Linked DNA regions of Homo sapiens: regions 2, 3 and 4 are each linked to region 1. The links come from fine-mapping of genetic effects on gene expression. A gene starts in region 1. Each other region holds a variant in brackets. All regions are shown on one strand. Distances are between the middles of the regions.

The links. PIP is the estimated chance that this variant, and not a neighbour inherited with it, causes the effect.
Region 2: its variant is fine-mapped to the expression of PLXDC2 in whole blood (TOPMed, PIP 0.96).
Region 3: its variant is fine-mapped to the expression of PLXDC2 in whole blood (INTERVAL, PIP above 0.99).
Region 4: its variant is fine-mapped to the expression of PLXDC2 in whole blood (INTERVAL, PIP 0.90).

The regions. Positions count from the first base shown.
Region 1 is chr10:19,812,329-19,820,440 of GRCh38, reverse strand. It overlaps PLXDC2 (plexin domain containing 2), which reads right to left and starts at 4,009. Exons shown (of 14, transcript NM_032812.9): 1 at 3,250-4,009. The coding sequence starts at 3,361. LOC124902388 (a long non-coding RNA gene) reads left to right here and starts at 4,213. Exons shown (of 2, transcript XR_007062078.1): 1 at 4,213-6,039; 2 at 7,598-8,069. RefSeq lists an enhancer at 4,320-5,085.
Region 2 is chr10:19,458,123-19,466,234 of GRCh38, reverse strand. All of the region lies in intron 29 of MALRD1 (MAM and LDL receptor class A domain containing 1), which reads right to left. LOC102724082 (a long non-coding RNA gene) reads left to right here and starts at 6,943. Exons shown (of 3, transcript XR_007062079.1): 1 at 6,943-7,024. The variant G/A (reference allele first, on the strand shown) is at 3,945.
Region 3 is chr10:20,109,904-20,118,015 of GRCh38, reverse strand. All of the region lies in intron 4 of PLXDC2 (plexin domain containing 2), which reads right to left. Among named protein-coding and RNA genes, the nearest start is that of PLXDC2, 300 kb to the right of the region's middle. The variant GT/T (reference allele first, on the strand shown) is at 4,785.
Region 4 is chr10:19,485,015-19,493,126 of GRCh38, reverse strand. It overlaps MALRD1 (MAM and LDL receptor class A domain containing 1), which reads right to left. Exons shown (of 40, transcript NM_001142308.3): 30 at 1,482-1,610. It also overlaps the pseudogene HMGN1P20. Among named protein-coding and RNA genes, the nearest start is that of MALRD1-AS1, 240 kb to the left of the region's middle. The variant G/A (reference allele first, on the strand shown) is at 4,149.

The DNA.
Region 1 (8,112 bases):
CCAGGATGGTCTCGATCTCCTGACCTCATGATCCACCCGCCTCGGCCTCCCAAAGTGCTGGGATTACAGGCGTGAGCCACCGCGCCCGGCCGGACACATATTTTCTACATACTCTGTGAGTATCTGATGCTTACAGTGAAGAAACCTGTCTGGAGCAAAATTATTATCTTTCATTATTAAGTTTTATTCAAATACATTCTCCCTGACAAGAGTTTATTTCTGAAGATCACACTGAAATGTGCAAATTCTCCTGATTATAATAATTCCAAACCTCTAGGCAGACATCCATGAACAACAACAACAAAAATTACCTTTGATATAAATGTTCTACACTACAATTATGTCTCAGTCCAAACTTACCCAACCTCAAGCTCCAAAACTTGTATCTGTTCTCTAAAGGAAAAAGAAACTCATATTTCATATTTTTAAAATTTTGCAGGTAGCCTCAAGTCATTGATTGATAAAATAATCAACCTGTCTTTTGTCCAACAATATGACAGATGTCCATTTTACAATAAATGTTCACTTGAATTAACCCCTCTATTATATCACTGTGCTCTAGGTTTATATGTAAACAGAAACTTTAGTGATTATGTCTCAACAGCAACACTCTCATAACAAACTCTACAAATGAGTAATATTTCAAAGTAAATTGTTTAACTCCAACAAAAGCAGGAAATAACAGAAAAATATTCAACCAGAGAAGAACAACTAAAATAAGTGTAAATTATATGATAAACATAAACTACTTCCCTCTAAAACAGAAAAGGGAATAATAGAGGAAATTAGCAGTTTATCTGCCCTCTGGTGGCAATGAAATCAACTGCAGCATTTACTAAAGTAACGCATAATAAAATGTCCCTGTTATGAAATCAGATGTTGTTCCTGTGCCAACATGTCTGTAATAAAGATCCTGATTGTTGCATGACAAACGTCAAGACTGCTGGACTTTTCCCCCCATACTGAATTTTTATATAGACTATTTTACAAATAAAGTTGTATACTTTTTTCTGTTTCACCTTGCTTTTTTTATATATTCAGTAAGCTAACCATTTAATTACAATATTTTTTTCATAAAACTACATGTAAATGATGTCCAGGAAAGAAGCTACTTCTGTTTATAAAAGTCTTCGAAAATTTGGCAAGGAATTTAAAACCATTCTTTTAAAAATCAATCCTATCAATATATGGGTTTCTAGAGTATATTTCCCATCAGAAATATTCAACTAGCTTAAAATACCAGTACACTGATGTTGAACATTTTAAGTATTTTATATTTCCCACAGCAAGGGCTTTTAATTATATGGCCAATCTTACTTTGGGATGAATTTCATCCTCAATTTCTGAACTTCTTGGCATAGCAAATGTGTGTGTATTGTGTGTGTGTGTGTGTGTGTGTGTGTGTGTGTATACATATATTCTTTTTTCAGTAACGTTACTGGAACAGGTTTATAAAAAGATAAACATTTGCTGGCATTTATTTTTTTTTCCTTTACTGCAAATGCATTATTTATTCCTAGTGCCAAAGAAGTTTTTAAATAAACAACTTGGGATGCACATTGGCACACACATCCTTTTAACCTCGTTTGTGGTGGAGTTAATTGTTTTTATTAAGCATCTATTCATACCGTGAATAAGTACATGAAAATTACTGTTGCAATTTTTAAATAACTGTGTCCTTTCCTGGAAGGCTAAAAGTGTTATTTTTTCGGACCAATGAAACGTATCAGAGAAATAAACAAAAGGCATAGTCTACTGTCATAAATCATACACAGTCAAGAACAACCTATGTCCATTAATGCAGAACAATTAAATGTGACAAAGACAAGTCAACACCCAAGAAATCTGCATTTTGTTCTCAGCTTTAAAAGTGTTGTCATCCTATTGCCTCCCTGCACATACACCCCAACACACACACCCCTTCAACCATAAATAAGAGCGCAGAGTCAGTATCTGTGCTTTATCTAGAACAGTTTACACCAGGGACAGGCGAAGTGTTGTGACTGTCTTCTAAGTCGCGGCTTGGTAAATTTCACTCAAGGGTTTCCTTCAAGATCTTCAAGATTCACCTTGCCTGGAATCCCCAGGTGTCCCCCAACCTTCCATCTGTGACTCTCTAGTTGACTGTTGAGGACGCATGCATACTTTCCGGGCAATCATTTAAATTACACACACACACACACACACACACACACACACACACACACACACACCAGAAAAGAACAAATTGACAAATTGATTATCCTAGGGAGAAAGTTTTCGTTTTCTTTTCTTTTCCCTCCAAGTTTTTTCTTTTTTCTTTTTCTCTCGTTTCACCTCCTCTCGAAGTCCACCCTAGTTCACCAATTTCTGCCAAGATCTCTTTCTGCCTGTGTCTTCACTTTCTTCACTGAAAGGCAGAAATGGGGAGTAGGCACCCAGTTCGCGGTGGGCAGGGTTCCAGGAGGCAGCTCCCGCTCGGCGATAGCCCCCGGGGCGCAACTCCCCGCAGGACGCGCACCTGCCAGGACAGCCACTAAGAGGATGCGGAGGTTGGGGGCCCTCTCGGGGACAAAATCAGGGCACTCCAAGGAACTCTCTGCGCGTTCAGGCCTGTCTGTGAAGCTGGCAGGCGGAGGACAATGGGAGCAGGGGTAGGTCTCCAGAGGCGAGCCCGCCTCCACCTTTCCCACCTGCTCCCCACCTCTGCGCCGGCCGCATTTACCCCGCCCCCCTTCCAGCGCCCGCTTGGCCCAGGTCACTAGACGGAGCTAGTGGGGATCGCCAGGGGAAGGAAGGTGCTGCCACAGGGAATTTTCTCGTGCAGAGGGGAGACCTGCAATCCCTGGCTTTCACAACGTCCCCCACCCACCCCATACCACACACGCTTAGTTTAACCAGCAGCGAGGAAGGAGGAGGAGCCGGAGAGCACACAGCCTGGAGATGCCAGGTCCTAGGAGATGTATCCACGGAAGAAGCTTTGCTCTCACACTGAAGCCCTCCCTGGGCTACTTTGGGGAGACAGTACCACCCCCTGCCGCCCAGGTGAAGTAAGCCCGAAAGCCTCAAGAAAACCCCTAGTCCCCGGCGTCCTTCTCTTGATAACCCTCTTTCCCCATTTGGGAAGCCTAAGTTTAGCCGAAAAGCAACTGCAATAAGTTTCCCAAGGGCAGATAGGTGATGTTGGGGGGAGAGGGTAGGGAGCACGAGAGTGCCAGAGAGGTCTTCAGCTGCGCACAAAATCAGCAAGCTAAAGTGCATCTTACTTACCAAGGATTTGGTCTCCGGGTTTCCCATCGGCGAACTGAAACTGGTCCGTGAAGAAGTGGCAAAGTAACATAACTCCTGCAGCGGCCAGGTCGGCCTTCGGGAACCTCGCCATGCCGCCGCCGCCACCTCCCTACCCCACCCGCCAGTCCTTCGCCGGTGCTCGGGGGCTCCCGATGCAATAGGCACGACCGGGCCAAACGCTGCGGATCGGTCTCGGTAGGACCCGGAGGCCTTTGTAAATGTCGCTGCGATTTCACAGTAGGGAACCGAGAAGAGGAAGAAGCGAACGCGAGTAGGAGCGCAGCGCTCTTCGGACCTCTGAGGCTCTCTTTGCAACTTGCCACACTCGCAGCCCTCACCCGACACTGAACAACAACCGCGGGGAGGAGAGGCCACTTGCAGCCGAGGCTCGCAAACTGTCGGTTCCACTCGGGCAGCGCCAACCCGGTGCCCGCGGACGGTGACTTCCGAGCCCCAGCGATGCGCTCCACTGGGTTCAAAACAGATCTAATTCCACAGCCAGCGCCGCTGCCTGCCCCAGATCCACTAGGGCTGGTCGGCTCTGCAGGAACTTTCCTCTGTCTAGGGATGGCCCCGGCAGGAGGTTTAGGTTTGCGGGAAGGAGGTTGATGACGAAACCCTCCCGACAAGTTTTGCTTCTTTTCTTCGCCCGACGCAGGGCGCGCGTCCTTTCTCGCAGCCGGAGGAATGGGCAGCTCCAAAGAGCTGAGCCCTGGGAAGGTTAGGGCTGCAGCAGTCTGAGGTCCGAAGCCAGGAAAAAAATGTGTTTAAAAAAAAAAAAAAAAAAGAGGAAGAAGAAAGGAAAAGGGTGGAGTGGGAGGGAGTCACGCTGGAACCTATCGGGAGAGGGTTCCTCCGGGCTCAGGAGGAGGTGGCCCCAAGCCCCCGCGGAGCCCCAGGAGTTTGGTGGCGGAGGAGGCGCTGCCGTCGCCACGCTCCCCCGCGCTCCTTCTCCACACTTTGAGGAGGGAAGGCAGCTCGCAATTTGCCAGATCTGCCGCCGCACCCTCCTCCCTCCTCCCTCCGCCCTCCCCTTCGCTCCTCCAGGCTTCTCCCACCTTCCTCCCTGAAACCGGCAGCCCGCACAGACCTGTCCAATGGCTGCACTTTCCTCGGGGCTGGCTGAGGAGTCGCGGCCAACAGATTAAGCCGGGGGAGCCTAGCGAAGGGGAGGGAGAGGGCCACTCCAGCCCCGTGCGCCCCAGGCAGCCGGCTGCCCCAGAGCGCGGGGAGAGGGGACAGGCCGGGGAGCTATCGGGGGAGCGCGGGGCGGTACCTCCGCGCCGCCGGGGCGCCATCCTCGCAGCCTGCTCGCACGCCCTGGGCAGCTCCGCCAACTGCGCCCCACACCCACCTGGCTCCCGGGCCGCCTTCGCGCCCGACTGCGGGGGGCGATCGCGCCCCGCCCCGACCCTGGCGGGGTCTCCCTGGGCACGAAAGGGTTAACCACAGCTCGCCCCTTCGCGGAGGCTGGTTCTGGTAGTGGCTAGGGAGTGGAGAAAGCAAACCAGAGCCGGTTCGGTTACCGACTCTGCGAAGCCCCCTCGACCCCAGCCCAGCGCGGGAGGGTGGCGGAAGGTGGTGCACCGCAGCGTGGTCCCCGCCGCTGCCGCCGCGGCTTTGCAAAGTGTCAGCGGGGGCGAAAGCGAGAGTTTAAAGGAACAGGAGGCCCATTGAATTTCCTACCGGAGCTTTCAGGGGCTCTGGCTCCCCAGTTTGTTTTTGTTTTTTCAGCTCGGGGATCTGTTTCCGCGTTAACCCTTGCCGGCCCTCTCGTTAGTTGATATCTTATTTTGCATACAGTTAATCATTTTTGAAAGGGATAAATACAAGGAAAAGAAGCAAAGCGCTATTGGTTAAAAGTACAGGATCTAGAGCCCGGACAGCCTGGGCTGGAATTTCACCTCCCCCGCAATGAGCAGTTTATCTCCTAGCCTCAGTTATCCATCCATCAAATGGAGAGAATTAGAGTAACGCCCTTATAAGGTGGTTGCAATGGATTGGATGAGTTAACTGTATATTTAATAAATATAGAACATTGCCTACCGCAAAGTACATGGCTTTGTTTAAGTGTTTACTGAAGCAAAAGTGAGAGAAGACGACTTCAATCACATAATAAATGTGCATGTGTTCTAAGTTCAAGGTCCTTTCCACTCCAAGCTCTGAAGAGTCTATGGATGCTGTCAATAGATGTCTCGGCTTGCCACAAAACCCACTGGAAGTGGATCCGGATAATCAATCTACCTTTGCAAATGTGATGCTCAAAGGACGGCTCTCTCATGGGAAACAAGAAAGGTTTCCCTTAATCCAATACTCAATTTGCTCTTTATTTCCAAACAACAGATATACACGTATAAACACAAACATATATCATGCCTATACTCTTTATTATGCCAGGACCCTGGCTCTTTCCTGAGCTTTCCTCCCATAGGTTGATTTCTACTTAGGTAACTGGGTTTTTCTATTTCTGCTTAACTAGGAGTGTTTAAGTTCTATGTAATATTACATCCGAATTTGAGTACCCGGATATATACCTGCTTAAAATCAAGTTTGAAAACTGAGTCTTCTCATCAAAACCTGATTGTGCGGTTGACCCTTGAACAACAGGGGTTTGAACTGCGAGGATCCGCTTTTGCATGGATTTTCTTCCTCCTCTGCCACCCCTAACAGAGCAAGACTAACCCCTCCTCTTCCTCCGCTTCAGCCCACTCAATGTGAAGACGATGAGGATGAAAGCCTTTCTGATGATCCACTTCCACTTAATAAACAGTAAGTATATTTATCTTCCTTATGATTTTCTTAACATTTTCTTTTCTCTAGCTTACTTTATTTTAAGAATACAGTATGTAATATGTAGAACATACCAAATATGTGTTAATCAACTGTTTTTATATTATCAGTAATGCTTCTAATCAACAGTAGGGTATTAGCAGTTAAGTTTATGAGGAGTCGAAATTATACATTAATTTTCTACTGTGTGGGGGTCCGTCCCCCTGACCCCCATACTGTTCAAGGGTCAACTATAGTTTAATTGATGCCGATTCTTTTTGAGGATCATAAATCCATGCGGAAAGCGTCCCAAAATATTCTGCACAACTCCAGCTCCCATCATATCTAAAATAATGGGGAATCCAGCGGAAACCATTTCAAGAAAGCACCTCTTTTTTCAGACCGAGTTATTTCTCCTTCTTTCACAGTAGAAAAATAGGTGTTTCCTCCTCTGAGAACAAGCAAATCTCCACCTCTCCTTGCTATCATTTTCTTTCTTTTTTCCTTTATTATTTTATGTGCGTATTCGCAGGGTTCATTTTTCTTGTTACTTGCGGTCATCAATGCTTTGACCACCTGATTGAAACTATATACTTTTTGTAAGTAGAAATTTGATGTCAAAATTTGAAAGGGGGTAAATGGTCATTCAGGGTCAGTCAGGAAGGACTTTTATATGTTTGGTTATGTCACTGATGCTGCTGAATTGTATTGGTTTACTCCTATCTTAATTTTATTCTGAAGAGCTATACACATAGTAAATGCGGAAGTAAGGGAGAAGATACAAGTAAGCAAAACTCAATCATGCTTGATGAGATTTGCTGTTCAGAAATAAAGAAGAAAGAGCAACATTGTATAACAATAAACTCAAGCTCTGATCATTTGCCTTAAATGTTGATGAATGATTATTTTTTTAAAGTATATTCTGCCTTTACACTGTAGCAAGGAACGAATAAATAAAATGTATGTAGGACAGTATGTTCAGAGTGAAATGGAAAAAGTAGATTACTCATAATTCTGGCTAAACTAGGGTATTTTGTGGCCTAAATTATTTGGGTTTGCCATACACATTTCACCACAGTAGAAGTGTCTCTTTCCATTTTGTAGTAACAAAGTAAGTATTTGTGGAAGATGTTACATCTTCCATCTGACATGAGGGAGAGACGTAGTAACGGCTGTTTGTATTCACTATAGACATAGGAAAGGAATTGGTGGTTCTTTCACCTACTCTTAATTTTAGCTAATCTCTCAAGGAACAAATGAATCAGGAACCACAAATGAATAGCACTTAGATTCTTTGTCCATGACAAAGATCTGGAATTCATACGACACTCTCTCCTTTAAAATAATATATCAGAATCATTCTCAACAACATAGAACTTTGGGCAAAGATTAGCATGTGAGCTATCACTGTGTGGATTTCAAACCTGTTTACAACCCTTATCTCTACCAATCTTCAGAGAGATTTTTACACACTCCAAGTGCAATACTATCTATAGAAATGTACTTACAATTAATCACCTCGTATCATCTCTGTCTTTAACAATGTTGTGTTTCCTAGGACCTGTCCAAAATTGGAACTTGGCTAACAGGATGCTGAAGAAAACAGCATGCTCACTTGGAAATGAGATTCTATACATGCTGTAGAATACTTGGCATTTATTATAATCTTTTCTTAACTATTCAGGAAATAGTTTTTGTCCATTTTAACAGGATTTGTTAAAACTTTCTACAATTGCTGTCAGATAAAGGGAAATTGCTATTAGTGAAATGCTTTTATTCAGTCCAAATATTATGACCTTTCCTCTAGGTCTCAGCATTTCCTCTCCCTCCTCATTTGGTAAGGCTAATTTTTTGACCTCTGGTATGCAATTACAAGACTCATTTGTTCGTCTTGGCTGATCTGCTCTCAGAATAAACTGTAATTCTATTGTACTGTTGATGGATATTCCAGCTTTTTGTTCTTTATAGTTTTAAGGTGAAAATTTTATCAATTATGTGTTTGAATTGAATAAACATCTTTTTAAAACTCACTTAACAGCTAACATAACTCTTTTTAACTGGAGCATTTAACAT
Region 2 (8,112 bases), 350 kb after region 1:
AAAAAAGGTTAATATAGTTAATGAAGACAGACCACTTCTGAATAAATACAAGAAAGCAAGCAGCTCAGTAGAAATTCTTGGCAAGAAAATAAATGGGTAATTCTCAAAAGAAGAAAAATAAATGTTTAATAATTAGCTCATGAATCTTTAAAAAACATTCAACCCCATTATTAATCATAGATGTAAATTAAAACAATCTACAATTTCATCTGCTTGATTAGGAAATTTTTCTATTTAAAAAACTGAAATTTCTTTTTAAAAAGTTTGGTGAGAATTTAAAGAAATTGACAAATTATTTCACCTAAATTGAAAAAGGAAAGGAACCTGATGGGAGTGGTGGGATTATAAGAAAGGTTTAGGTTTTTGAATTACAGAGACAGGGAAAGATATCCACAGACTCTGGAGAGGCCAAGCATGGTGGCTCAGTTATCGCAGCACTTTGGGAGGCCAAAGCAGGTAGATTGCTTGAGCTCAGGAGTTTGAGACTAGCATGGGCAGCATGGCTAAATCCTGTCTGTATTAAAAATACAAAAAATTAGCTGGATGTGCTGGCACATGCACCTGTGGTCATGGCTACTTGAGAGGCTGAGGTGGGAGGATTGCTGGAGCCTGTGAAGTTTAGGCTGCAGTGAGCTGTGATCGTGCTATTATACTTCAGCCTGGGTGACAGAGTGAGACTATGACTCAAAAAAAATTTTTTAAAAAGACTCCAGAGAATCAAACAACAAGCAACCTCAACAGAGAGTATGTGAAGAAACAGCCCTAAGAACATGGGGTTAGGTGAAAATTTACATTTGATACAAATTCTTAACTGACAATATATGTTAAAGTCATACTTTTACATATGTTTAAGCTCAGAAATTACCTTATAAAAAACCGTTTATGACAAACTGACAACCAACAGAATACTGAAAGGGGAAAAGTTGAAAGCATTCCCTTTGAGAACCGTAACAAGACAAGGATGCCCACTCTCACCACTTCTATTCAACAGAGTACTGGAAGCCCTAGCTAGAGCATTCAGACAAGAGAAAGAAATAAAGGGCATTTAAATTGGTAAGGAGGAAGTCAAACTGTCACTGTTTGCTGATGATATGATCATATACCTAGAGAACCCTAAAGACTCCTCCAAAAAGCTCCTAAAACTGATAAATTCAGCAAAGTTTCCGGCTACAAAATTAATATACATAATTCAGTAGCCCTGCTATACAACAACAGTGACAAAGCTGAGAATCAAATCAAGAACTCAACCACTTTTACAAGAGCTGCAAAAAAAAAAAAAAAAAAAATTGGAATTATACCTAACCAAGGAGGTGAAAGACCTCTACAAGGAAAACTATAAAACACTGCTGAAAGCAATTACAGGCAACACAAACAAATGGAAACACGTCCCATGTTCGGGGATGGGTAGAATCAATATTGTGAAAATGACCATCCTGCCAAAAGCAATCTACAAATTCAATGTAGTTCCCATGAAAATACCACCATCATTTTCACAGAACTAGAGAAAACAATCCTAAAATTCATATGGAACAGAAAAGAGCCCACATAGCCAAAGCAAGACTAACCAAAAAGAACAAATCTGAAGGCATCACATTACTTGACTTCAAACTTTACTATATGGCCATAGTCACCAAAACAGCATGGTAGTGGTATAAAAATAGGAACATAGACCAATGGAACAGAATAGAGAACCAATAAATAAACCCCAAATACTTACAGCCAACTGATCTTTGACAAAGCAAGCAAAAACATAAATTAGAGAAAGGACACCCTATTCAAAAAATGGTGCTGGGATAATTGGCAAGCCACATGTAGGAGAATGCAACTGGGTCCTCATCTCTCACCTTATACAAAAATCAACTCAAGATGGATCAAGGACTTAAATCTAAGACCTGAAGCTATAAAAATTCTAGAAGGTAACATCGGAAAAACCCTTCTAGCCATTGGCTTAGGCAAAGACTTCACGACCAAGAACCCAAAAGCAAATGCAACAAAAACAAAGATAAACAGGTGGGACTAAATTAAAGAGCTGCTGCATAGCAAAAGGAACAGTGAGCAGAGTAAACAGACAACCTACAGAATGGGAGAAAAATCTTCACAATATATACCTCTGACAAAGGACTAATATCCAGAATCTACAATGAACTCAAATAAACTAGCAAGAAAAAAGCAATCCCATCAAAAAGTAGGCTAAGGACATAAACAGACAATTGTCCAAAGAAGATATACAAATGGTCAACAAACATATGAAAAAATGTTCAACATCACTAATGATCAGGGAAATGAAAATCAAAACCACAATGTGATACCACCTTACTACTGCAAGAATGGCCATAATCAAAAAATCAAAAAATAATAGATGTTGGTGCGGATGTGGCACAAAGGGAACACTTTTACACTGCTGGTGGGAATGTAAACTAGTACAACCACTATGGAAAACAGTGTGAATAGTCCTTAAAGAACCAAGAGTAGAAATACCATTTGATCCAGCAATCCCACTACTGGGTATCTACCCAGAGGAAAAGAAGTAATTATACGAAAAAAGATACTTGCACACGCATGTTTATAGCAGCACAGTTGACAGTTTCAAAAATATGTAACCAAATGCCCACCAGTCAATGAGTAGATAAAGAAAGAGTATATACACACACACACACACACACACACACACACACACACACTACTCAGCCACGAAAGGGAACGAATTAGTGGCATTTGGCATTTGCAGCAACCTGGATGGAACTAGAGACTGTTATTCTAAGTAAACTAACTTGGGAATGGAAACCAAACATCCTATGCTCTTACTCGTAAGTGGGAGCTAAGCTATGAGGATGCAGAGGATGCAGAGGATGCATTGTATCATAAGAATGATACAATGGACTTTGAGGACTCGGGAAAGGGTGGGAGGTGGAAGAGAGATGAGGGATTAAAAAACTACAAATTGGGTTCACTGTGTACTGTTCACGTGATGGGTGCACCAAAATCTCTCAAATCACCACTAAAGAACGTACTCATGTAACCAAACACCACCTATTCCCCGAAAACCTATGGAAATAATAAATAAAATTAAAATTAAATTTAAAAATAAAAGAAATTACCTTATAAGAAATTGTGGTAGGCTATTGGTTCTCTATACAAATATATATTCCCTTCCTCTTTCCTAGTAATACAACTTAGTTTTGAATAAACACATTTCGTAGATTTCCTTATGATTTAACCACGCAACTAAATTTTGGTTAATTCATTGTAAGTATAATTAATACACAAAAGCTTCAAGAAAACAATTTTAAAAGACACCAGGTATGTGTCCTTCCTTTGCCTCTTTCCCTGCCTTATTTTTTCTTGCCAGCCAGATGAAAGCTATAATAACCAGAGCTAAAGCAAACTCTTGAATTATCATTCCTCTCACAATATTTCAGGCAGCCCCCTCTCCGTCTCCACTCTCACTGTACTGCTCTAGTGCAGTTCATTACTTTTTATCCTCACTATTGGACTAGCCATCTATTAGAATAATCAACTTATCTGTGTAATATCCTTCTATACTTGCTAGTAGGAGGTACTGTATTAATATTTATTGAATGCAAAATATCATGTTCTAAGAATAGATTTTCAATGAGCTTATAGTGGATTTGTGTTTTCATTTAGGTTTTAGTAATATTTAGGCATGGTGAGGCCCACAGATCAGGAAATGACTGCCATGGAAAAGATAGGTTTTTATACTCACAGAACCTGAGTGAAGGGAGAACACTTCACTGTAGGGAGGCTGCACAGGCAAACACTCGGATTGATCCGGAGGCAGAAGGAGATGCAAAATTGTGGGCAAGCGCCTTTATTGCAGTTTCTATGAGAAGCAGATTTACAATTGGCTAGTTTGAATAATTTCAGTAAACTCGGGGGCATGGTGGCTCTTCCTAGTCTCTGGTAATTAAACCTAGGATGATTAG[G/A]GCAGGTAGATAGTGGCTCTGAGTGTGACGGCTTCATAAAGGAAGTAGGTGGAGATGTGGGCTCTAGAGTGGTTGGTTTGCATTTGAAAAATGCACTCAAGAGGAAGTGCTTTACTATTGCTAGGAAGCATCAGAATACAGAAAATAAGACATAGTGAATATGATTTGTATACCCAGCTCCCCTATTCTGGTGACACTCCTTCATCAATAAGGTCACCAAGGTGGAGTTCCAGTAGGCATGTTTGTCTAATGTATCCTGCCGTCTCTCTACAATAACTAGTCTGAGGGTGACCATTTGACCCAAGATAGGTCAGAGAATTTAGAAATAAAACTAAAGGATGCCTGCAACAATGTGTCCAGGCTCGTGTATTCCCCGGAGTCATGTTTTCTTTATGTACGGTAAAGTAGAGATGGACGTTCCACAGAAAGGGAAATTAAATAGATGAGCTGAAACACACAGTTTCTGTCACCCAGGTTGGGGTGCAGTGGTGAGATCATGACTCACTGCAGCCTCAACCTCCCAGGCTCAAGTGATCTTCTTGCCTCGGCTTTCTAAGTAGCTGGGACCACAGGTGTACACCACCACACCAGCCAATTTTTAAAATTTTTTGTAGAGATGGGGTCTCACTATGTTGCCCAAGCTGAACTTCTGAGCTCAAGTGATCTTCCTGCCTCAGCCTCCCCCCACAGTGTAGGATTACAGATGTGAGCCACTGCCCCTACCCCCTCTCACTTTTTAATCTTTGATTTCCATATCTTCCTGACGTTGTACCATATTCTTGATTGATGTGATTCCTTGTACCTTTACATGAACTCCTTTTACGTTTGACAGTGTTGGCAGTTAGAGTAAATCTAGTTAACATAGAGATTTCCAAGAAATTATCATTAGAATGTACAAAGACTAAAAGACCAAAAAGTAACCTAGTGGAAAAAACTCCAAGCACACTTGGTTTCTTTCTCTGAACTCCTTCCTGACCTTTTAATCAACGATTTTAAACTCTTCATTTCCCAGTTCCTCTGAGACAACTTTCCAGACAATTTGTGTGAGTCATTTGACTCAAATCCTTCAAGAATCCATTCCATACTAAACATTCTTATTCCCCTCTTAAATGAGATTGTGTATATGCTGGGTCTAGTATGATCTTGTCGCCCATTGATTTTTCAATATCTATTCATTTCCTTCCATTGTCTTGATTGTCACTTATTCAATGCATGCTTCTGTAAAACAATTAAACAAGTAGGCATGTATGCAACGGATCAGTGGAGGAATTAGGTTACTATAACCAGAAGTTGTTTTGATTGGTCCATGATTTTGACCACTACAATAATTCTTGTAGCACCAACATACAGCAGATGAAACCAAAGAGTACTTGCACAGCTGAGCTCAGCAAGTCATACAGGAATTCCCGGACTGCGCAGAGTGTGCTTCAACCAACGTTTTCAGATGAGTTATCCATGTGCTTTCTTTTGAAAGTGCTTCTTTATTGCCTAGTTCTCCTGGTCTTCGGGTAATTTGCTCTTGCCTTCAAAATTCAACAGCCTTAAACATTTTATACTATGTTTACCTCAAGGGTCCTTGCCTCCCATCCACCCCCACTGTTTTAGGTAGAGTCATACATTTACTCAAAAGTTCCTCTATTTACTAGGAATTCAGATACTTTAAACTGTACTAGCAGCTTGAATATGATTGCTAGTGTTTATATTAGTGCTGGGTAACTAGATTACCTATGATTTCAGTGGCTTGCTCCAATACTATTTTTCCAAAGGCTTTCTTCTTTTCATATTATTCAAAACATGAGGTTTTTCAGAAACTTATATGTTACAGTAAAAAAAAAAAAATCTGTGTGTGCGTATGTGCATTTGTGTGTGCGTTCCATTAAGTGGAATAGACAAGAAAATTGGTTTCTAGTCCTGGCTTAATATTTGTGCATGTATAAATATCTGTAGATTTGGTTGTTAACTGTTTCTTTATGTTTGGCTCAACTAGATGTAATTTTCATGTGTTCCACATCTACTCAAGTTCAACTGTAGCTTATACATCTTATATACTAGTATATATCTGTACCGATATTTCAGGACTAAATGACATATACTTCAATTATGTAGTGGAAAAATTATATATGAGTATAAAGTAGGAGCCTTCTTGATAAACATCAATATTCATTTTGAGTGAAAATAAGTAAAATATAGTTCAGTAAAAATGGAAACACCATATCATCACAAAAACTCTATGCAATGGTCCTACTGACCTAGATCCTAAATATGAAAATTTTCATTGTCATTGAAACAAATTCTAATTAGAAATTACATGAACTGAGGATAATGTTAACATTCAGATTTACAGTTGCCTCTATTTGAACCTAGGGATATTTCAAGGGCTATTTAAGCCTTACTAAAATGTCTGGTCAAATAATTATTTTTTCTTAATAATGTAAATGAACCAAGTTATATCATTGTGCTTGGATTATAATTAAATATAATTATATTAATAGTAATATTTATCATTATAATATGATTTAAATTACATTTTTAAATATAGACCTTTTTAACATTCAGATGCTAATTCTCTTAATTTTATTGAGAGATAAAGCAGTATTTGATGATTTCAAGGTACGTAACAAATGGTTTACTTGAATACAATGTTAAAGTAATTAGATTCATCCATGGCTTTGACTTTTTTAATTTAAAATCACTGATTAAAAGTATAATAAACTCAATCACATAGTTCTTTTGTTTAAAGAATGGCCTTGGACCAGAAAAAAAGAACTAGTCCCTGATTTTATAAGAAACAAGTAATTGGGCTCTAAGGCTTAATGAAGAACAATGCAGTTAGTTGATCATGGCAATGAAGTCTCTCTTCTGAAGCCTGTCTCAAATCAATTCAAGCAATAAAAGAAAGTTAGATTTATAACTGGCAATGACTGAATGTAGAGGGTTGATGTCACAAAGACTATCTCCACCTCTTCGTTAAGAATTTTGTTTAGTGTCAACTTTATTCACTGAGGGTACTTCCTCAAAAGGCTGAACCCAGGAATGCTGGGAGCTTTTGGTTAACACCTTTAGACTATTAGAATCTGAAGGTAAGTATACTTCTCTCTTACATCTTCAGGTTGAATAAACCTGCAAAGGATTGATAGCTTGGTTGTGATTTCTTTTTGTTTATTAATTAAGCAACCATAATCCTGAGACTGTGACCTTAAATACAGCAAATGTATTTGCTTCCAAGGTAGAGAAACTGGAAAACTCAATGTTAAATAATGTCTCTTTATGTAATATTGCATTGTGTGTTAGGTAGTAGATTGCACTGTGTGTTAGGATGGGCTTGATGATATACTTTTAAAATACCACTTAAATCTTAAAAAATACTATATATATACGCACATATATATATATATATAACTCAACTATACATATCTAAAAAACAAGTTGGCTAAGAGATTCTCATCTACAGATTCAGGAAGATGAGGCAGATGTAGATATACTATCTGGGATATAAGGCCCCTTTTAACATGCAAGGGAGACCTGATGAGACTTACTTTTGAATTCAAAATAAATCTGTAACGATGAAAATTGTACACTACATTTTAAATATTTCAACTGGAAATGACACATGCTACTTCCTCACAGCACATTGGCCAATTCTGATTCTTATTGACCCGTTTAACTAAAAGGGAAACATGCGGGAAAGAAACTGATGTCATTCAAAGAGTAAATATCTCTACCACATGCGGTGATACATTTTCAAAAAGACAGCATCTGTTTATAAATCAATGACAAAGATGTCACCATTCTTACCTTTTGATAATCAAAATTCTTCAATCAATAAAAACCAGTTACCTTTCACTGAAAAGTCAAAATTAATCTTTGTATCCATATATGATATATAGTTAGTAAAATATCAATTTATGTATGGACATGTTATTAATATTGATAAGTAAGTTGGAAGAGAACATATAATCAGGAGATAAACTAATTATAACAAGCTATTTTTAAACATGACTTTGACACTTTTTGTTAATCAATATTTGCAGGGATTTAGTTACTTCAAATAAGCCTATTTTGTCATTTGAGAAGCATTGCGTACTTCATCCTGCCAATAAGTAAAGTTTCATTTAAAGTGCAGGCTTAAATGTATGGATTCTTCTATAAAGAGTATATTTAACAAATT
Region 3 (8,112 bases), 300 kb before region 1:
GGCATGTTAAAGTACATTGATTTTATACATCAATACAAAACACATATCGAGTATCTTTAAATCTGAACTGCAGTAAAATCCAGGAAGCATCCAGCTTACTTAGTCTAAAAGCATTTCAGCCGTGGTCTTTTTCATTTTGTTGACCCAGATACACATACCTTTCAATATCTTGGTTAATTTCATCTTGACTGAGATTTTCAAAAATGCATTTATTTTCACAGACATAATGTGTTCCTCATAAAATTCATCAACTCTATTTTAGGAAGCACTGCAATTACTGAGAACAGGGAGAGACTGAAAGAAGCCCTAAGTCCTTCTAGCCATATCCATGACTCACTTTTTTGAAAATTCCATCCTATTCTTACTGCTGGGCAATACATAGTTGAATTTTCATAAATATATGGGATTTTTTCAGGAGTCAACTCTGATTCATCGGTCAACTTGTTTATCCCTGTGTGGATGGCTCCATGTTTCCTTGTTATGTCTTTAGACCTGGCGAATCAAGAGTCCATCAACTGTCTGCCTTGAATGTGTGAAAATCACTGTTCCTTTGTTCTCTCATATAAATTTTGTCAGTATACATGTGCACTCACACACACGCATGCACACACAAACACATAAGATAATCATATTATATTTTGACTGAAATTGCATTGGAGTTATAAGTCGGTTTGAGAGGAATTCATTTCTTTTAATTTTGAATTCCCCAATCCATGAACATGGTATTTGTCATTATTTATTTATGTACTCTTGGAAATCTTTTAATTTTTTATGACATTTTTCACAACATCCTTCACATAATCTTTATATGTCTTTTGATTTATTTAGCTCTTTTGAAGCTACTGTTATTGAAAACTTTATGTTCAATTATATTTTCTGACTGTGTATTCAGAAACACAACTGACTTTATATATTGATTTTATATTCTACAATCTCGCTCAACTGCTGAACTATTTTTTTTTTTCATTTTTAAGGGATTTAGTATGTGATAATTATATTGTCTGAAAATGAGAATATATTTTTTCTTCCAGTCTTTAAATATTTTATTTATTTTTTCATTTTTATTCATTGTGCATTATTTTAACACAGAAACAATAAACTCTTCCTTTAAAATAGATACCTAAATGATAAATAACAATCTGTAGAATTTACTTGCAATTAGGCAATAAGCAAAATACAAGTCAGAGACCTAAAACAACTATCAAAAAAATTTTTGTAAGACTGAATAAAATATTTTGTAGAACATTTAGAAGGGATGTCATTGCTTACAAACAACAATTCTGACTTCAAATTTCTCCTTTCTATGTCTTCTTACTTCTAGTGACATCATACACACTTTGGAGAGAAACAGGTACATTTCTTTCAAGCCACCAATCTGTAGGTATCCAAATACCTTACTTCTAATGTTACTTCATTAAATAACTTATTTTTCCATTCCCTTAACAACCTTTTTACTTCTATTAAACCTTAACATCTGATTATCCAACCAAAGTAAAGCATTAAGAAGTGCTCTCAAAAAAAAAATGGCTTATTAACTTCTCGATTTACTGTGACTTTGCCCAGAGCAGATTACTGATAACAGGGAGAAATGGGTATATGGAAAAAAAAGGCAGGCAATAGAACCAGAACTGTGGGACAACCCGAGAACAGATAAGTAATAACAACACTACATCTCCTCTTAGTTTAACTGGTGCAACCAAGAGAAAAAGACCTTCCAAGTGCAGCTTCAATATTTTACTGTTTTCCGGGGGGGAAAAAGAATCTTAGGGTTATTTTTCCCATAGCACCTTTACATTTACATCTACAGAAAGGCTTGGGGGCAAAGCTATGATCTCCTTAGGTTGAAAAGAGGCACTTCTGAAAGGGGACTGCAGGAAGGCATGCAAGGTCTTTTGTGATTGATAACCTGGTTTCCTAACATGCAGCTTTTGTAGAGGAGCAGCGTGAATCCACATCTCAAACACACTTTTGTGTAACTGGTTCAGACCAATCAGAACTGAAGGATGACTTTTTAAAAATTCCACTTTCTATCTGCTAAAGAAGAGAATAAAAAGGGTCATCGTGCTGCGAGGAATTCTTTCCATGGACATTTATCTGCAGCTCCCGTTTAATGTGTGAGTGCACCAGTCAAGATGGCTGAAGGTAGGATTTATCCCGGATAACCTGACCTGACCATGACAGTGCACCTTGTCTAAGTGCTCAAAGCTTCACGAAACTGGGGCAAGCCTATATTAGAGAAGACACTCAATCGTACTAAAATAATACTTTTTAAAATTATTTAAATAAAATGTAATAGTATTTTAACCTTTTCACAAATTTTAGATATGGGAAGTATGGGGGAGGCGTAGACAAAATGTTCTAGAGTTCATTGTCTAATCTTCAACACTGTGCATTTCTTACATTGCCATTGTCAAAAACTCTACCCGGGTAAGTATGACTATTAATTCTCTCCTGCCTATTTAAATCCTCTCTCAGGAAAGATATAATGGGTTTTTATGTACTAACATGTGAAGGGTATATATTTATTACATAATCACCCTTAGGACTATTTACACATTATTGAGAAAGATGACCCTCGTTAAGCTAAAAAAGTGATCTCTACTGTTGTTACCAAATAGGGGCTGAAACAGCTCCAGTGTGTGGCTACTTATTTCTGGCCTTAGATAAGGGGTCAGCTTAGGTGCCCCACACTCAGCCCAGACCATCTCGCAAAAGGAAGAGGACAAGCTGACATGAGTCAAGGTTGCAAATACCTCTCAAGTGGCCTTTGCTATCCTTTATAAGCTTTGCAATGCTGAAGGTTTCTAAAGACTTGACATGAACACTCCTCCTGGGTGTGCCGGTGACAGGTGAAAGAGTAACGTGCTGGCCCTCTGGTTTATGGCAACACGACTACTATCCAATGTCTACAAAAATGACAAATCCCCAATGTCATCAGAATCTAGCCATTCAGGAAACAACTGTATTTGAAGAGAAAGTGGTAAAAAAAAATTGCATTGCGGATTTATTTATCTCCTCATTGGTTGGATGAGCTAGCTTTTAAGGATAGACGGGTCAGTTTACTCATCTTTGTATTCAGTGCTTTACTTGGCACAATACATAAGTCATACATTGGGTTTCAAGTGTGAATTGCTGAATTTTCAAACACAGCAGCTTGCCATGTAAAGCCCTCCCTGGTCTGGTCACTGCCTGGCTCTTCAACTTTACCTCTCACCACCCCTCCAGATGTATCCTGTGCTCCAGATACTCACAGTTCTCTCCAGGTACCATGGGTTTATGCATTTTCACAGGCTGCTGTTTCTGCCTGAAATATACTTTCCTGCTTCTGTGCCCTGAAAAATCCTATTCATCTTTTAAGCTTCTCCTCGTCTGTGAAGACTTCTTTCATTCTCCACAAACCCAGAAGGCCTGATTACACCCTTTGTGGTCCACACCTGTGCTCATTCAGACGTCTGTTACAGGTCTTCTCACACTGAGTTAAAATTGTTTGTTTTCACATCCATTCCTAGGTCTATTCCCCTCTCTCACCACCTCTTACAGACCCCAGAGGACAGGGACCATAACATTTTCATGTTTGTATTTCAACACAGCGTCTGACATTGATCCGTGTACTCACTGGATTTACAAGTAATCATTGACTGCTTAGTATGTTTAAAGTATTGTGCTGGGCATTAGGGCTAAAGTAGAGAGAAAAGCCTTCTCCGGACTTCACAGAGAACGGTGCATGATGTGGCCAGAGAGCAACAGGCTGAGGTCAGATGGTGGAAGGCTATGCCAGCCCACAGCAAAAGTTTGGGGATGTTTTTCAAAGGCAATGGCCAAACACTGAAGAGTTCAACAAAGACTTGACCAGATTTGCCTAATTGTTTTCTGTTTTATTTTATTTTGTTTTGACATGGGGTCTCACTCTGTCACTCAGGCTGTAGTGCAGTGGCACAATCTCGGCTCACTGCAACCTCCACCTCCCAGGTTCTAGCAATCCCCCTGCCTCAGCCTCCTGAGTAGCTGAGATTACAGGCACCTGCCATCATGCCTAACTAATTTTTATATTTTTAGTAGACAGGGTTTCACCATGTTGGTCAGGTTGATCTCTAACTCCTGACCTTCAGTGATCCACCCACCTCAGCCTCCCAAAGTGCTGGGGTTACATGCATGAGACACCACACCCAGCCACATTTGCTTAATTGGAAGAGCATTCTGATAAGCACCACATTAAGGAGAATGTTTTCTTCCAAAGAAGAATGGAGGAAAAAATTGAGAAGGGTACATGGCAAAATCAACTGTGTCTGTTTTTTTATTTTTCCCCTTCAAACTAGGGAATGGGTACACTAGTGTTTTCCACATTATCTATTGTTTATGCAGCTGAAGTGGTTCAAAAAAATTTTTTTTTAAATAGTAAGTTCATTCAGCCAGAATGTGTAGAAAATGAGTAAGGAGGGGTTCACTGTTGAAATGAGAGAATAATTCGCTGTCTATCTCAGGAACCCATGGAAGGATGGAATTGGCTGCAATTAGGAGTGGAGTGGGCAGAAGTAGACACATTAGAGAGTTTTTCAAAAGTAGAACCAACGTCCTGATGGCTTATTGGATAAAGGGCGAAAGGGCTGAGGAAGGCGTTCAATGGAAGATGATGGTACCAGTTACTACAGCAAGGAAATTGGAAGAAAAAAGCTAAATTTGGGTTTGAAGGCTTGTTTAGAGTAAAAGTTAACCCAATCTTGGCAAGCAAGCTAGCTAGCAAGCTAAGAAAGCTAACCCAATTTCTGTAACCCATACAGTGTAAG[GT/T]ATTACAATAAAAAGAGTCATTTGGTGGTTTTCCATCACTGAACATCTACCTGTTGAGGCAGTTGTCTTTGCATTAAGCCGTTGCACTTTGAAGTGAAAAGTCTGGAGATCTGGGAAAAGAATCCGATTCCTCTGATCAGTATTCTCCATTGCAAAGCCTACAGATGGGAGGGACTACCTGCTAAACTAACCATGAAACTGAATTTGCATCTCTGTACCTGATAAGATGAAGATGCATGAACACACACTGGCAAACTACTCTTCCATGAAATAAAAAGATATCACTTCAAGGGTCATTTTATTTCATTTTGACTTATTTTTCCATAGTCTAAAGAAAACCTTAAGCAATGAGCTTATTTGATAAAAGCATTAATTTTCCTGTTGGCAATGTGTTTGTCTATAATATTAGTACTTCACAAGTATTGTATAAAGAGCTACAGCACATATATTCCACGGTAAAAATTTTCTTTCCAACTTTCATGTGGTCTTATCTTTCGAATAAACTAAGGTAGCCTAAGTATTAACATAATGTTAAATTAAGGCAAAGTGAGAAAATTTCTATACTTAAAAATCTATAAAGCAGAACTCTCTAAGTGTTATAAATCCACCGTGATAGAAGTGTGTTCTGAGGGTTCCCAACTTAATACAGATGAACAAATATGACAGCTTAACAAATTAAAAAGGTCACTAAATATGCCCATGGGATACTGTCTCACTGAAGCAGGGGATGATGGAGAGGAGGACATCGAGTCAGAGCTCAAGGGAGAATTCTTTATTTCAGGAAAACAGTGATCAAGTCTGTACATTCAGGAAGAGGAGAAATTTGAAATCCAAAATGAGGCTAATGTCAGAGTGAATACTAATTGGAAAGTAGAACCTTTTTTTTTTTTTTCATTTTCCTATGTGAACAATTTAAGTTCAGTAACTGAAAAACTTTGTGAGTGACTTTCAAATATAATTCAATTGCTATCTTGGTCTTTTCAGACTACCATAACTAAATATCATAGACTGGATGGCTTAAACAACAGAAATTTATTCTCTTACAATTCTGGAGGCTGGAAGTCAGAAATCAGGGAGCCAGCATGGTCAGGTTCTGGGGAGGGCTCTCTTCCTGACTTGCAGACGGACCTTCTTGCAGAGGACACAGACCTTCTTGCTGTGTCCTCACATGGTATATGCAGATGGAGAGACAATGACTCTTTGTAAGAGGGCATTAATGACTCTTCATAAGAGAGCATTAATCCCACCATGAGTCTCCCCCTCAATAAATTCGTATAACCCTAATTACCTCTCCAAAGTCTCATCTTCAAATATGGTCACATTGGGAAAGGGGTTTCAGCATATGAATTTGGGAAGAATGCAGACATTTAGTTAAAAAACTGTTAATCAAAATATTGCCAGTGTTAGAAATTACTTGAAGTATACGTTAGGATCTGTGAACTTTCTGGATGTTAGAAGAATCTCAAAATACTTGTCCTCTGGGAGAATGAACTTTCTTACAAGAAGGAGTAACCGTGAGACTCGCATCTTGGGATTTCATGCAAAGTTTACAAAATATATTTGGTCATCCTTAACTAGTTTGAAAATGAAGTAAACATGTCTTTCCTGCAATGATTACAGTGTGATTCTTTTTACACTGTTTATTGAGAAAACAAACATTTCAGTTTGACATTTTTGTTTTATCTTTTGAACTAAACTAAACCAAATGTTAGTATATGTATGTGTATAATTTACTTAGAGAACACCTATGGTCCAAGGAAAATGTATTTTTTTCTGAATCACAAGATAATTATTTTCAGAAATCCAAATTTAAAAAGTGTCCTTATCTGTAAAATGATAAAATATTGTAATATTAGTTGCTGGTGTGTGTAAAATAAATACTTCTGTTTTTAAAGTAAATAGAGTCATTGAATCATTAACAAATGGCATGAGGGATTTACCATCAAGGTTAAAATTAATAAGCTGATGTGAAAGTACTAGAAAATGATACGAGACATGTTAAGGCACTTTAGAAGGTATTCCATTGTGAGTACAATGGTTTGCAAGTCTATCACCCACACAAAACTGAACATTCCTCTAGAGCAGGGGACGTATCTGTCATCATAACCCCATCTGCCTAGTGTTCTGTGCAGCCCACCATGGTTCTCCATAAATGCTGGCTGATTTCTGTTGTATAACTAGGCAGGAGAGAAAGTAAAGACACTATTTTTGTTTGGTAGAATTATGTGGGTACCCTGGTCAGGGGGTGAGCATAGACAAGGGAGCCCAATAGGTGTCAGAGGTGACTGGAGTAGTACAAGTGTGAGGTGACATGGAACTTGGCTGTTGGCAGAGAGAATGGAAAGGGAGGGATGGCTCAAACAGAGTCTGTGTGGGGAATAAAAGAGCAAGGCCGATCAAAAACAAAACGAAACAAAGATAATTGTAACATGCAGAGATCCTGAAAAACTGGGAGAAAAATAGAAAGATTGATGAACTAGAGAGCAAGGGTTAGGAGAGGAGATGCTGATTCCCCAATCCTGAGGTCCTCCAAGGTCAGCTGCCGGGAGGAACAGTGTGGGGGCACAAGGAGGGGCTGACTGTGACAGTGACCGGCGTTCAGAGCCGAGCCAGGGGGCAGGCTGCTGAGACCAGTCTTGGTGATGCCTGAGAGTGGGAGGGAGCCAGAGAAGGCAGGAATATGCCAGGAAAGATGGCATTACAGAAATCAATGAAGGTGATTTCCAAAAAAAGGGGATTCCACAGTATAAATACTACCATTGAGGCAAATAAATAAGGAGACAATTTCTGATCAAGCCATTCCCTGTTATTACTTGTGAGAAAGATTGCGGGAGAGACAACAAATTTATGGTGAAAGGGGAGGATAAGTGTTAAGTGGTACTGTCTGTCATTCACTGCCCTCCTTGACCCAGCACTAATTAATCTATCCTGTCTTCTCTCCAGGATAGGCAAGGGCAGGCCTTCTATTCTTCATTCTTTTTCTCCAATTCCTTCCTGCATGCTCTCATCTCTGCTTCCCTTTTCTGGAGAGCACCCCTCCTTGCATAACACCACCTGCCAAAAATCTCACCTTCTCTCCAGCTTTGTCTTCTTCCTGAGCAGTCTCCATCCCTGCCAGGCAGATGTCTTGTGTTCCCTTGAACTTTCCTGTCACTTTTCATCTTTTTTTCTGGTATGTGGAATATTTTGGATGCCTACATATATATTTTTTGTGTGTTGACTTGTTTCCTTTGCTAGACATATGCCTTCTGAGAGAAAAAGCAGCAGATTCAGCTTTTATTACCTCTCCGTGAATGCTTGGGAATGAGAACTGTGCTTCACACATTT
Region 4 (8,112 bases), 330 kb after region 1:
TTTTCTTGGATGAAAATAGTTCTAGAGGTGGATGGTGGCAGTGGTTGCACAACAATACAAATGTACTTAATGCCATTAAATTATACATTTTAAATGGTTGAAATGGTAAATTTTTTATTATGTGTTTTTTACCACAGCTTTTTAAAGTTTAAAAATATATTAAAAATTTTAAATAGAAAATGAGCCCATTGGAAGCATCAGTATAAGATCCTAAGAAATAAAAAATTAAATTGAGCTATACAATAAAAATGTAAATATGCTTGTGTGGTAGTTTGTCTCCAAAAAGGTCACCCTACAACCTTCTCTACATTTGATGTATTTTCCCATTGAAAGTCTAGTCTAGACTTTGTTTTCTCATTGAAAGTCTAGTCTAGACTTTGTTATTTGCTTGGCCATTAGCAGGAATCAGGTATGGTATTATGCAACATCTGAGGCTAAATCAAAGTAACTGTTGCTATTTTTCCTGAGGATCGGGGGACACTTTCTAGTAGAAGCCAGCCCTGTGTACAATGGCTTACCACCCTGTGGCTACCATGTTATGTAAAGCCCAAGCCACATGGAGTACTCTGGAGGATGAGACACCATCTCTAGTAAGACAGAGAGACCAAAGAGTATCAAGAGAAGAAGTCATCTTGGATGTGATTATCTAGTTCCACCCTATCAGTTCGACTCAGGCCATCAGAGACAAACTGCCCAGAAGAGCCCTTCCTGAATTACTGACCCAAAAAATTGTGAGCAAAATGTAACAGTGGCCTAGACCACTAACTTCTGGGGTAGCTTGTTAGGCAGCAAATGGTAACTGCAACAGGTAGCTGGTATGGTATCAATATTCTCTAGGAAAGATAAGATAAATGGAAAAAATATCCTTTTTTTCCAGTACAATATATGGAAAAAAGATCCTTTGAATTTAAATATCTGCTCATATTTTAAAATTATATACTTAGTTTTATATATGTTTTTAAACATTGCTTGAATTAAAGCTTGAATAAAAATACAATGGAGCCCAACCAGTCCTCTTTCTCCAGTGCAATGTAATTGATAAAATTAATTACTAAACTGGTATTTATTAAAAGTGATCATTTTCAGCTGCATATACAAAATCAACAATTTTTTGGAAAAAAAAATAGAAAAAAAAAAACAACCAATAAAGAAAGGCAGATTGCTACTGCAGTTCCTAGAAACTTTAATTCTAACCCTACACACAGTGTGCCTAATTACAGAATGGGATTATTTTTTGGTAAAATGATTTTCTATAGACTTGTTACTGTTCTCAGTATGGGGTAAAGAATATGAAAGTACTGTCATTTGTATTTGTATTTGATACTTGTATACAAATTTGGGGAAATATTTGGGCTATTCTAAATCTACTCTAGTGCATGAAAATAATATTTCTTCTCCATCATCAACACCAATATCTAACTCTACTTATGAAGGAAAATATCTGCTGAACTGGCTGCCATACAGCAGATAGATAAACTTACCACAGTGAGCTTCATCAGACCTATCAGAGCAGTCTGGCTTATAGTCACAAAGAAGGTGGGATGCAATGCACTTCTTGTCCCGGCACAAAAAATCAGTGATTTCCGGACAAAGCTCAGAGATCTCTCCCACTAGGGAAAAACAAAAAAACAAAAGCAGTATTCCATCAATATTTTCATTAGACTTGAAGATTCCTGTTAGGTATTTTATAGATTTCACACTAGTAAGCAAGTTAAGGATTTCAACAGTTGCCTAAGATGGACTTCCCCAACTTCCTCTTTCTCAGTCCCACCTTCAATGGTTCAGCAAGTTATATAGACTCTACTTCTGAAATATCTTTTATGCACTTTGATGGTGCTGAAAATCTCCTTGCCTGTGATTCTCATGGATGAGACACTCAAATTTGTGGCCCACAACTACCTGGAACCTGGTAAAGGGTATGTGCAGCCTGCCACCAAATCCTGCTCATTGTCAGCATGCACTGATGAGATTTCCTGGCCATTTGTGCTGCTCGTAATGCTCCTGGTGATCTGAGTCTATAGCAAAGACACTAATTTTAATGATATGTTCCTGTCTTGACTGAAAATTTTACATAAAGAAGATGTTAACTTTATTGGTTAAAGCAACTGTCTATTTCTGCTGAATTTTCACATAAACATACTGGCTGGTGGAGGTTTCATACTCTAAATTTTATTTTGCTTTTCCTGACTCCCATGGGGCAAAATTTTCCTTTTTTATACACATAATTAAAGTGTCCATTGACAAGTACAGAGAACTAACACTATTTTATGCAAATTTTTTGTAGATGAAAAAGTATGGACAGTGTTTAATACTCATCCTCGTATAAAAAAATAGTCAAGCCAGCAGACATTGTCAGAAAATTAATTGGCAGCAGACTTCAGGAAATGAATGTGTGTTTTTTTCTAAAACTAAATAGCATGTATTGTGTCTTTTGCGTGATGATCTGAATTTAATTTGATATCACAGTCTAATTTTTATTCATAAGCCAATTTTTCTGCACTGAGCAGAGTCCTGCTACCTCAGTTAGTGTTGTTTTGGTTTGCCATTTCCCCCACCCACCTCAGCCTCCCTTCACCGTACCCCCACTCTACCCTCACCCCCATAACCCTGCCCCCCCCCCGCCCCACTTGGCTTCTTCTGTTTACATCAGTTTTAAACAGAGGTATGACTGTTTACATCAGTTTTAACGAGAGGTATGCCTGTACTCGCTTGTGCAGAAAACATTGTTCCAGATTTAATCGACCGGGTTTATGTCCCTTCACATGGTTTTTAAGATTATTTAAATGTCTAATGTATTTTATTGTAACAGACATTGTGTTGCCAACATTGCCTATTTCAGTGGCACATCACAACCTAATTTAGATAGAAAAATCAAACATTTTAAATGGACAAAGGAAAAAAAGATAAAAAGATATTTTTTCTTTCATAACTGACATTGTATTGGTTGAGGATCAGTACAGACATTTCAATATGTACACAATTCCTAAGACATGTACCAAAAATCTAAAAACCTATATATTGTAATTCTTTTTTAAAGTGATTCCAGTGACTTTCCAGCTTAAAATTTGGAAGCAAATTTTCCTTAAGAGGCTATCAAGTACCAGTATCTTCACATGTTGATAAGCTGTTACCTACATCCCACCAATTCACAACTGAATAGCATGTATGCTACATATGCAAATTTTTGACCTTTCACAGCACAGTAACAAAGTTATTAGGAAAATAGGACTATCACAACCAAAGAGGCTACACAGTGCCCACAATTCTGACAGCAGAGCCACGATCAAGGAGTAGTTTTCTTTAGGAAACAATTCTACTACAAAACAACATGGGAATAGAAGTAATTTAAAATGCTAAAGACGTTAGATGCAAGATTGTGACTCCATATTGCCATTGAATATGCTTTGTATTATAGGATATAAAAACTAACCCCCACCGATGCAATGTTAAGCTGACAACCAAGACAGTGAAAGCATCCCATAATTCAATATCCCACACTATTCTCTGGTTGTACCAAAAAATAAACAACCAGCGAATGATTTCACCTCTTAAAAAAAAGCATTTACACTTAAAAAATAGGATGAGATGGGATTCCCTCCTTCTTAAAAATGTTTCTGGAGCTGCTACTAAACAACTTGCATTTACAAAATGGTTGATAAAAATATTCCCCTGGATTGTACAAGAAGGGAGACAGGGACCACTGATAAGACATGGTACATAGTATTAATCAGACTTGGCTACTTTCTCTCCTGCTTCATCAGAGGCTGGACTCTCCTCAGTTTTCCTTTCCCCGTTTTCTGCAGTTAACTCTTCTTTACTTTCGTGGTTAGCCACTTAGGCCTGTTTTCCCTTTGCTCTCCTTTTCCCTTTTGTTTGTGCTTTTTTGTCTTAAGATGTATCCTTCGCTGCTGCCTTTTTCGGCTTCGCCTGCACTTTTGCAGGAGCAGGTTTACCTGACAACAGCGCTGACCTCCTGTTAGGCTTTTCCTGTGGCGGCCCCTTCAGCAGAGCTGACCTTCCTCTTGGGCATTCTGGCTCCGGAAAGGCGCGTGCGCGGTGCCTGGCGCTGCCGCCCCTCCACCCTCCGAGCTGCTGAGACCCCTGGCGGGGGATGGTGGGAGAACCGGATAGAACCGGATTGGGAGCCC[G/A]CCTTCTCCTCCGCCCCCGCTAAATTTTTTCAGTACACGGGATCTTAATAACCCATGTAATAACCCAAACTACTTCTTAGAAAATGCAAAGTATTCTTAACAAAAATCCTAACTCTGCAGGAAGGTCATTCATGACATTTGACTTCTTTGCATGGCCACACACCTTTCCATCGTTGTACAGGTGGGGACCGAGGCTGATCATTACCTAGTACATAAATCCAAACCCCCTAATAAAGACATTAAAAATCCTTTGTCCTTGGTTCCAGCTTAGTTTTCCAGTCTCATTTTCTGTGACTCTCAAGTACCTGCAATTGTTCTATATCCTATGACTGAAGGTTTCACAAATCTGTCCCTTGCTCTTCGTTTTTTCATGCATTCACAGATGCTACTTCCTGTCTGCCCTGACTATTCCCTCCAGAGCCCCAGGTGCCCGCTGCCCAAACTTATGATTCAATGAAATGACTTCTCTCTCTCTACTTTTGTCTTGCCTTTCTCACTGCCATCTTTGCCCCAGGTGAGACACTTCTGTTTCATGCCACCTAAGTACCCTTTTATTCCTATACTACAATGAGTATCATCACATATAAGAGCTATTTATACATGGCTGGCTGTCCCCCCAGACTCCAAGCTCCTTAGAACCAGAAGTTCTTATCGTGTTCTCTTGGGCCTCACATAGAACCTGATATATAGTTGGCTCTTTATAAACCTTGGTTATCATAATTTCAGAAACAATGTTTTCATCTAAAGGGGGCTTAGAAAAGTGAATTGACATAGAATTTTTAGAGCAATTCTTATATTTAAATATTATTTCATCAGATATGTAGTCAAATGACAATACTTCACAGATTCATAGTGACTTATATTAAAGGTTTACAATTTTTTTTATCAACTTCAACAAATTAAATAAAATTCAGCAGTTCCTTTGTTACATAGGTGATTATAGGTTCAGAGGTGATGTACCCGAGGTGGAGGTAATTTACTGACAATTAGGCAGTACTTCCACAAATAAAAAGAACACAACTCTACAGACTTGACTAAAAGTGCATATCCAGAGTCTTTGGATTATGCCCATAATACAATAGCTAAAACCTGTATGATATCCAAAAATAATTTACCAGTAAAATTTGGTATATACAAATATGAAGACTGAAGAAAGAACATCTAAGACAACAGCAAATGGTCCAATTATGGGCATTAACAAGACAAAGACTTAAAGGTCATATTTACCAAGTAGTTTAGGAACTTTGCCACAAAATTTTAATTAACACTAGCGAGAATTTACAGTTAACCCTAGGGCAGTATGTGGACATTTTTTCCATATGCAAGTCTATGCATTTGAGATTATTTTATTTTTCCATGCCATAGGATGTAAAGCCATATAATTACTCCACAGGGGAAATGTGCTTTGATGTCACTCTAAATAGTTGGTTCTTTGGCTTTTATAAAAAAAAAAAAAAAAAAGTTAAAATAGGCTACATCTCTAAATAAGGGTTATTTTCTTTCAAAATATAGAATAGCAAAGCCATGAAGAGAAATAAAGTGATGCTCTGAACTGCAGTAAACTGAACAATGACTAGAATATCTATGAAATATTAGGTGTCCAAAGAAAAATAAACAAATAAAAAACAGCCTCACGTATATTTTTTAAGAATACAGCAAATTGAAAAGATAGATTTTTTTAATGAAAGACTGTTTTGCATGTGTTTAGCCATTTTATATTTTTTATTCAGCCAAAATGGTAATGATAAAGGCAAAAACTATTCACCTGGTTGTCAAATACATGAAATGAAAGATATCTCACATATTCTATATTTGATGATAAAAGAATGGATGGAACATTGGTGCTCACAATAAAAGTTGAAAATAACCTGGCCAGCAGATTATGGCATATGAAAAAACTAGAATATTTATTTTGCTAGTAAAAGACTGACAAACAGAGATGTAAAGACCTAACTAAAGCATGAGAAACTGAAAGATCCTATGAAGGCCGTGGAAAATAATGCAGCCATAAGAAAAGAAAATTTAATCCAGTAAGAACATAAGGTTTATATAGGACTAATCTACTGTAGATTTAAACAAACTCTCACCAACATGAAAGTGACATCAATTGAAAACTAGTTTCATTTTACTTTGAAACAGAGCTTACAAATCCTCGATCCTATAAATTTCAATTTGGATTAAAATCGTTTTGTACACAGAGTTCATTACACTGAACCAGATATAATCATTATATAGATAATATTTATGAAGAAACACTTGTTGTTTTATTACTTTCTTAAGCTGATGACATTCAATATGCTCTGAGATTCCAGACGGCAAGTTTCATATGGACATGCATTTCTAAGTACCTTTGTTTTTCATGTAACCACATGAAGAATATTAAAACGGGCGTAATCCCTGCTTTTGAAGACCATGGTATTTAGTTGACAAAACCACATATTCAGCTTTGGAATCAACTGAAAAGAAACAATTAGGGTTTCTAAGGCTGCTATATATGTATGGAAGACCTAGTGAAATTCCAAGTACAAGAGAACTTTCCCATGGAATACAGTGAGTCAGGAAACATATCTAAGAAAAGTCCTAAGCAAGTAAACATCTAGATGCATTGAAGGCATGAAAGGAGCTTAGACCACAACAAAGAATTTTAACTATCAAAGACTCAAAGATGTTCATGAGTGAGCAGGAGTTAAAAAAAACTGATCAGACTTACAAAGGTATGTTGGTCTGTGAAGTATTGGAGAAACTACGTCTTTTGGTTCTGAAAATGCAGATTGACATTTGATTTAATGTGATAAGTAAATGGAAACCTCTGAGCTTTTAAAACATATTTTATTATAGTAAGAGTTTAAATACATAATAATGTAGAAAAAAACAATCTCTCCTTCTTTACACAATGTCTTTAACATTTTGTCGCATTTTTCTTTTTAAATTTTTTTGTAACTAGGTTAAATACTTGTAATCATAACATATACACAATATTTTCTCTACCTTTATATTTATCATATCATAAATATTTTGTCTGATTTTCACAGTAATCACTAATATCTATAAAATATAATGAAAACTGAATATACCCCTAATTTAGTTAATAATTCCATTATTATTCATCATAGAGTTGTTTCAGTATTTTACATTTAAACAAAACTATGTTTAGCTTCTTCATAATTGGAAGTAGTTATGTAAGACAGACTCCTAACATGCCATTATTGGGTATAAAAATGTATCGATGGATTTGTCTCTTTTAGGGCTTTTGATATCTATCAATAAAATTAATTGCTTTTTTAAAAAGCTACACTGATCTATTTTATTATTATTACTATTTTTTTTTTTTTAATTGAGACGGAGTCTTGCTCTGTCGCCCAGGCTGGAGTGCAGTGGCGCGATCTGGGCTCACTGCAAGGTCCGCCTCCTTGGTTCATGCCATTCTCCTGCCTCAGCCTCCCCAGTAGCTGGGACTACAGGTGCCCGCCACCACGCCCGGCTAATTTTTTGTATTTTTAGTAGAGACGGGGTTTCACCCTATTAGCCAGAATGGTCTCGATCTCCTGACCTTGTGATCTGCCTGCCTTGGCCTCCCAAAGTGCTGGGATTACAGGCGTGAGCCACCGTGCCCGGCCTTCTTTATTATTTTAAAAATATTTTTAATTTTCATAAGTTTAGGGGTGGAAATGGTTTTGGTTATATGATGAATTGTACAGCGATAAAGTCTAGGCTTTTACTGCAACTATAATACAAATAGAGTACATACATTACACTCATCAGATAGTTTTTCATCCCTCGAACTACTCTCTCAGCCTCCCTCTTTCTGAGTTTCCAATGTTCTTTATGCCACTCTGTATGCCACTCCATATATCCATAGCTTAGCTCCAACTTTTAAGTGAGAACATGCAGTATTTGGTTTTCCATTCCTGAGTTACTTCACTTAGGACAGTGGCTTTCAGTTCCATCCAAGTTGCTGCAAAAG